Linked DNA regions of Homo sapiens. The protein of the gene in region 1 binds, or shares a complex with, the protein of each later gene. Each region holds a gene or a part of one and is shown in the gene's direction. Other genes may lie near its edges.

The links.
Region 2: ISY1 (region 1) and PRPF19 share a complex: the UniProt entries of both Homo sapiens proteins name them as parts of the XAB2 complex.

Annotation. Positions count from the first base shown.
Region 1 is NC_000003.12:129,136,799-129,140,609, reverse strand, and holds part of ISY1 (pre-mRNA-splicing factor ISY1 homolog), read left to right. Parts: intron 1-124; coding exon 125-242; intron 243-3,413; coding exon of another isoform or gene 3,414-3,479; intron 3,480-3,811. Other genes in the region: ISY1-RAB43 protein, read left to right, coding at 125-242. UniProt on the Homo sapiens protein: Component of the spliceosome C complex required for the selective processing of microRNAs during embryonic stem cell differentiation. Required for the biogenesis of all miRNAs from the pri-miR-17-92 primary transcript except miR-92a.
Region 2 is NC_000011.10:60,900,034-60,903,844, reverse strand, and holds part of PRPF19 (pre-mRNA-processing factor 19), read left to right. Parts: coding exon 1-133; intron 134-309; coding exon 310-386; intron 387-963; coding exon 964-1,105; intron 1,106-1,188; coding exon 1,189-1,262; intron 1,263-1,379; coding exon 1,380-1,442; intron 1,443-2,304; coding exon 2,305-2,346; intron 2,347-2,475; coding exon 2,476-2,550; intron 2,551-2,915; coding exon 2,916-2,991; intron 2,992-3,153; coding exon 3,154-3,263; intron 3,264-3,811. UniProt on the Homo sapiens protein: Ubiquitin-protein ligase which is a core component of several complexes mainly involved pre-mRNA splicing and DNA repair. Required for pre-mRNA splicing as component of the spliceosome.

The DNA of each region.
Region 1 (3,811 bases):
AGCGAGACTCCACCTCAAATAAATAAATGGGCAACAGAGCGAGACTCCGCCTCAAATAAATAAATAAATAATAACTAACTAACTAACTAACAGATCCATTTTCTCTTTTTTTCTTCCCAATAAGAAAGTTGGCCCTAAAATGCTGGATCATGAAGGAAAAGAAGTCCCAGGAAACCGAGGTTACAAGTACTTTGGAGCAGCAAAAGATTTGCCTGGTGTTAGAGAGCTGTTTGAAAAAGAACGTAAGTAAGTTTGTGACAGTTTTAGCCTTTCATTGGTAATAATCATAAGAGTAGATATGCTATATGCTAACTGCTCTTACTTTTTTTTCTTAGTTGCATAACAGCCTTATAGTGTAGGAATTATTGTTCCCAGATTTTAACTGAGAATTCTTAAGAACTGGGATAGAATCATAGGCCCATGCCATACAATTGGGGCTGGAAAGTGTGCCCAGGATTGGCTGGTGCAGGATTCTGCCTTTGGCAGGTGCTAATCTGTCAGTCTGGACAAGGAGTTTCCCTATTTGAAGTTTCCCAGAACGATTGGGGCAGGCTCTGAAGTTCATTGAATCAGGTCATGTTTCAGTTACTTATTAGTTGAACAAATGATAACCAAAGAACAAATACAATCTTGGGCCAAACCCTAAATGTAAAAATGGAGAAAAGTGAGGCCCAGCACTGTGGCTCATGCCTGTAATCCCAGCACTTTGGGAGGCTGAGGTGGGCGGATCACCTGAGGTAGGGAGTTAGAGACCAGCTTGACCAACATGGAGAAACCCCGTCTCCACTAAACATACAAAATTAGCTGGGCATGGTGGTGCATGCCTGTACTCCCAGCTACTCAGGAGACTGAGACAGGAGAATTGCTTGAATCTGAGGGGTGGAGGTTGCGGTGAGCCGAGATCGTGCCATTGCACTCCAGCCTGGACAGCAAGAGCGAAACTCCATCTCAAAAAAAAAAAAGGAGAAAAGTGGAGCTACTTTTGTGTGAATCCAAATAGGGCACACCCACCTTTCCTCCTTCTTTCAGCCAAACCTCCTGAATATAATTTGAAACTGTTAGTCTGGAGTTTTAGTCGGTTTTGATTTTGTGTTTTAGAAAGGTAGTCAACACTTCATAGGAAAAAGTATGAGAGGCAGAGAAGAATGATGCCAGTATTTTCACCATTATTAGCATTTTGTTATATCTCCTTCTAGTTGGCTTTTCTATTTTAAAAAAAATATAGTTCTATTTTTATTAAATGCTGCTTATTTTAAAATTCATTATTCCACAGCTAGTTTTGCATAGGCCACTACCATCCCTTAAAAATAATTCAGAGTTTAAATATTGTGCCATTAATTATGAAGGAATATATTTTTTACTACAGAGGAGTTATAGCCAGGCGCAGTGGCTCATGCCTGTAATCCCAGCACTTTGGGAGCCTGAGGCGGGAGAATCACAAGGTCAGGAGTTCGAGACCAGCCTGGCCAACATGGTGAAACCCTGTCTCTACTAAAAATACAAAAAAAATTAGCTGGGCATATGGCAGGCACCTGTAATCCCAGCTACTCAGGAGGCTGAGGCAGGAGAATCACTTGAACCTGGGAGGCAGAGGTTGCAGTGAGCCGAGATCGTCCCACTGCGCTCCAGCCTGGGCAGCAGAGCAGGACTCCATCTCAAACAAAAAAAAGTTATAAAATACAGAAAATCAGAAAAAAACCACTCACATTTTCACACCTCATATGTGATGATTGTTAATACATTAGGGCATTGTTCCCTCCAGTTTCTTTCTTTCTTTCTTTCTTTTTTTTTTTTTGAGATGGAGTCTTGCTCTGTTGCGCAGGCTGGAGTGTAGTTGTGCAATCTCGGCTCACTGCAACCTCTGCCTCCCGGGTTCAAGTAATTCTCCTGCCTCAGCCTCCCAAGTAGCTGGGACTACAGGCGCATGCCACCATGCCCAGCTAATTTGTATCTTTTTTTTGTTTTTGAGATGGAGTCTCGCTCTGTCACCAAGGCTGGAGTACAGTGGCCCAATCTTGGCTCACTGCAAGCTCCACCTCCTGGGTTCACACCATTCTCCTGCCTCAGCCTCCTGAGTAGCTGGGACTACAGGCATCTGCCACCATGCCCAGCTAATTTTATTTTTTTTTTGTATTTTTAGTAGAGACGGGGTTTCACCGTGTTAGCCAGGATGGTCTCGATCTCCTGACCTCGTGATCCACCTGCCTCAGCTTCCCAAAGTGCTGGGATTACAGGCGTGAGCCACCGTGACCAGTACTAATTTGTATTTTTAGTAGAGACAGGGTTTCACTGTGTTGGTGCCAGGGTGGTCTCGAGCTCTTTTTTTTTTGAGATGGAGTTTTGCTCTGTTGCCCAGGCTGGAGTACAGTGACGCAATCTCGGCTTACTGCTGCAAGCTCTGCCTCCCAGGTTCACGCCATTCTCCTGCCTCAGGCTCCTGAGTAGCTGGTACTATAGGCGCCCGCCACCATGCCCGGCAAAGTTTTTGTGTTTTTTTAGTAGAGACGGGGTTTCACCATGTTAACCAGGATGGTCTCAATCTCCTGACCTTGTGATCCGCCCGCCTTGGTCTCCCAAAATGCTGGGATTACAGGCGTGAGCCACTGTGCCCAGTACTAATTTGTATTTTTAGTGGAGACAGGGTTTCCCTATGTTGGCCAGGGTGGTCTCGAGTTTTTTTTTTTTTTTTTTTTTTGACATGGAGTCTTGCTGTGTTGCCCAGGCTGGAGTGCAGTGATGCGATCTCGGCACACTGCTGTAAGCTCTGCCTCCCGGGTTTACGCCATTCTCCTGCCTCAGCCTCCCGAGTAGCTGGGACTATAGGTGACCGCCACCACGCCCGGCAAAGTTTTTGTATTTTTTTAGTAGAGACGGGGTTTCACCGTGTTAGCCAGGATGGTCTCTATCTCCTGACCTCGTGATCCGCCCGCCTCGGCCTCCCAAAGTGCTGGGATAACATCCCACTGCTCCCGGCCGGTCTCAAACGCTTGATGTCATGATCTGCCCACCTCGGCCTCCCAAAGCGCTAGGATTACAGGAGTGAGCCACCTCGCCTGGCTGTTCCTTCCAGTTTCTAAAGGGTTGTGTTGGGGTGGCTCCTATATTGTGATTATGCTCTATATGTTAGGTTTTTTGCATTTACATTTTTCTAAATATATTTTTGCTTATTCCAGTGATAGAGTTTTGGGTTTTTAAATTTATTTTTCCTTTTTTGTCATCTATTGAAAAGATTTTTGTTTTAGAAAGAAAATGCATAAGTGAATTTTACTGGTTATAATTCAAATAGCACAGATAGAGTTAAAGTCCTCTTACCTCTACACTCATCCCAGTGCCCCTCCTAGAGGTAACTGATAACCATTATTATCTGTTTGGTATGTTCCTTTCCGGCCTTAAAAATTTTTTTATTTTTTTAGGCCAGGTGCGGTGGCTCATGCCTGTAATCCCAGCACTTTGGGAGGCTGAGGCGGGCGGATCACAAGGTCAGGAGATCAAGACCATCCTGGCTAACATGGTGAAACCCCGTCTCTGCTAAAAAAAAATACAAAAAATTAGCTGGGCATGGTGGCGGGCACCTGTAATCCCAGCTACTTGGGAGGCTGAGGCAGGAGAATGGCGTGAACCCAGGAGGCGGAGCTTGCAGTGAACTGAGATCGCGCCATTGCACTCCAGCCTGGGCAACAGAGTGAGGCTCTGTCTAAAAAAATAAAATTAAAAAATAAAAAATAAAAAAAAAAAGAAGAAGAAAATACAAAATTAGCTGGGCATGGTGGCAGGTGCCTATAATCCCAGCTACTCGGGAGACTAAGGCAGG
Region 2 (3,811 bases), on another chromosome or scaffold:
GAGCACCCATGTGTATCCCCTGTCTCTAATCATGTTTATGAGCGGCGGCTCATCGAGAAGTACATTGCGGAGAATGGTACCGACCCCATCAACAACCAGCCTCTCTCCGAGGAGCAGCTCATCGACATCAAAGGTGCCTATTGGCTGCCTTAGTCTAGGGCCATCTTAGCTCAGAGCCTGAGAGGATGGGAGGTGGTGCCAGTGCACTGGAGGAAGAGATGGTGGGCTGTTTATGGCTAAAAGGAAAAGATGTGATGGCGGGGGAGGCCCCTGGGTTATGTTCTTCATACCTGCTTTCCCTTTCGGCAGTTGCTCACCCAATCCGGCCCAAGCCTCCCTCAGCCACCAGCATCCCGGCCATTCTGAAAGCTTTGCAGGATGAGTGGGTGAGTTCCTGCAAGAGAATCAGCATCTTCCCCACTTGAAGAGAATGCATTGCTGGGTTAGGACTTGGGGGTAGGAAGGATGGAGCATTATTTAGAGGGTAAACTTTGTGACATCAGGGATTTGTTTTATTCTTCGTTGTATCCCCAGCACTGAGAGCAGCACCTGGTACATAGTAGGTGCTCTAGAGTTATGAATTGAATGATTGAATACATCCTGCAGGACTGTCTGGCACAGTGCCTGACACAACGAGGGCGATCAATAAATAGCAGCAGCAGCAGTGTTGTTATTCTCTTTTAGAGAGGGGACGGCATGACAGCTGGGATTTGCCAGTAAGTTAGGGAAGGTGGGGATGGGAAAGAGCTGGCTCCCACTCCTGTCTGTGTGCCCAGTGGTTCGCTTGGGGTAGGAGCTCAAGAGTGTCTGCCGGCACATTCGTGTTTGCTCGGATATTGTTTGGGTCACTGATACTGGTCTAGGCTCTGGGATAGGAGGCAGCATCCCCTCCCCAAGGGCTGACTCCACTGGGTACTCCCTGCACCCCCCACCTCACCTTACAATGATATTTGCTTCTCCCAGGATGCAGTCATGCTGCACAGCTTCACTCTGCGCCAGCAGCTGCAGACAACCCGCCAAGAGCTGTCACACGCTCTGTACCAGCACGATGCCGCCTGCCGTGTCATTGCCCGTCTCACCAAGGAAGTCACTGCTGCCCGAGAAGGTGCAGCCTCTCCCCTGCCATCCCCCACCCTGGGCTGGTTCTGCATTGTAATATCCCATTTCTAACATCGTCTTTTCTCTCAGCTCTGGCTACCCTGAAACCACAGGCTGGCCTCATTGTGCCCCAGGCTGTGCCAAGTTCCCAACCAAGTGTTGTGGTAAGTGTCCCCCTTCCCTTACCAGCAGCCCATTTGTGTACAGTGGCCCACAGAACTGTCCTTATGCAGGTGTCTTTGGTGCTCTGTGCCTCTCACCCTCACCTTTCTTCTCTTCAGGGTGCGGGTGAGCCAATGGATTTGGGTGAGCTGGTGGGAATGACCCCAGAGATTATTCAGAAGGTAAGTCCTGCTCTCACCTGGTGGGAGTGCTGATGGGCCCTTACTTTTCACCATCTGTCTGGAGTCCATCGTGACTAAAATCACTGTGCTTTTGGGAGTTGAGTGGTGCAGAGCATGGACCCTGGGACCAGATTGCCTGGGTTTGTATTTTGATGCCACTACTTGTAAGCTTTATGACCTTGGCTTACTTAGCCAACCCTTACGTGTCTCATTTCCCTAGCTTCTAAACTGAGAATATGATCATATCCACTGTATAGGCAGGCTGTGGGAATTTAAAAGATTTCATTACTGATAAGTGCACCTTTTAGCTCTTATTGTTATTGAGATTCTTTGCAGATAGTAAACTACTTTTATATATTTTCTTGTTTTTTTTCTATGAGGGCAATAGGATAGGAATTATAATCCTTATTTTGCAGATGAAAGACACATCTGAGAGGCAGAGCTGGGCTTCCTGATTGCAAGTCCAGTGGGATTCTCATTTGCAGGGCTTCTTAGTGTCTTTCTGAGCAGTTCAAATTGTCAGCATGTGTCTGAGCCCTTGGCTTAGTGGCGTGTAGACCTATGGGAGCTCTACAGTCCTAGCTTCTATTCTTGCTCTGCTGTTTATCACCTCTGCGACCTTGGGCAATTGACTTCACTTCTCTGAGGCTCAGTTTCCTCAGCTGTAAAATAAGGTCATCAACACCCCCCTCATAAAGCTGGGATGGAAGTAAGAAGAGAGAATGCCTTTAAGCCTGTAACGTAGAAGTTGGCAGATAGCAAGTTCTTGGTGCTGCTTTTGAAAGCACAGGTGTGACCAGCATCTAATGTACTTTTCTCCTTGCAAGATGATTTGTCTCACATTGAGCCTGTTCTTCCCCAGCTTCAAGACAAAGCCACTGTGCTAACCACGGAGCGCAAGAAGGTGAGTTCTCTTTCTGAAGCCTGGAGAAAGAGCTGGCCTGGTGGGAGGCGGTTGACTCCTTAGGAGAGAGAGGGCGGCTGAATCTTGGATTCATTGCTGCTCTTCTTTGGGGGCTTTTCATTTTCTCAGAGAGGGAAGACTGTGCCTGAGGAGCTGGTGAAGCCAGAAGAGCTCAGCAAATACCGGCAGGTGGCATCCCACGTGGTGAGTGTCTGGGTCTCCACTGTCTTGGAGACAGCCCTCCCGTTTTGTTTCTGGGGTGGGCGGGCCAGCATGGGGAGTGCTGAGTGCAGAGCTGTCCCAGGTTCCTGGCGCTGTTCCTGGTGCTGTTTCTCGCCTGGGCTGCTGAGTTGTCAGGGCTCCTCTTTCTGCCCAGCTGTGGGTTTCCTAGTGATGCAGTGAGGGAGTTACCGTACCAGGCAGATAGCCAAGAGGTATGGATAAGGAATAGAAGTAACTCTTGCTCCCCTGAGAACATGGGTGACTGGAGATGGCAGTAGGGGAGGTCTGTGGCTTTGTGGCCTGCTGTGATTTGGCCGTGACAGGGTTTGGTGTGTCTCTCTGCAAAGGGGTTGCACAGTGCCAGCATTCCTGGGATCCTGGCCCTGGACCTCTGCCCGTCCGACACCAACAAGATCCTCACTGGTGAGAGTCTGGGCCTAGCCCGGCAGGCCAAAGTGGGGAGGGGCAGCAGGGAAGGCGCATGCTCCTTGTCCTCTTCATGGGCATGGGAACAAAAGCATTTCCTTGAGCAAAAGGGCCTGGGTGGGCCTGACTCATTGTTTGGTCTTTTTGGGTCTTCTCCAGGTGGGGCGGATAAAAATGTCGTTGTGTTTGACAAAAGTTCTGAACAAATCCTGGCTACCCTCAAAGGCCATACCAAGAAGGTCACCAGCGTGGTGTTTCACCCTTCCCAGGTAAGGGGTTCTCCTCGCCACCCTTGGTTCTTCTTTCCTTGGCTGTTGTTTGTCCCTCACCCCGCTGCTGTCTCTGTGAAGTGGGGCTGGGAAAGAGCTCTGACTCTGACTCCTGAGTGGGCACTTGGAGGGGCTCACTTTGGAGTTGTGGAGATTGCCCTTCACTCTGCGTGAGACCTTCTAAAGCAGTGATCTTCCAGCCAGGGAGAGAACGGAAATGTGTAGTTTGACAAGCATATTCATTGAAATATTTCATATTAGGGAAAGAAAAAATCTTATAGTGTTCCTAATATAAACTACAGAAAACAAAGCTCAACACAATCTCAACTCACACTTACGAGGAGGACAGATATATCTGCTTTCCCATGATCCTCCAAGATGGGTAAAAATCATGTTGACTGTTGAAAGTGGTGTAGGTTGTAAACAGAACCTCTGGTTTACAGGGTAAAGGTAACTCATGGGACCAGATTAATGATATTATGGGATTCGAATTTTAAGCCTAAGACAGTTTGGGTTTGGGGCTGCAGGACATGGTTGGTTTAGTGCTT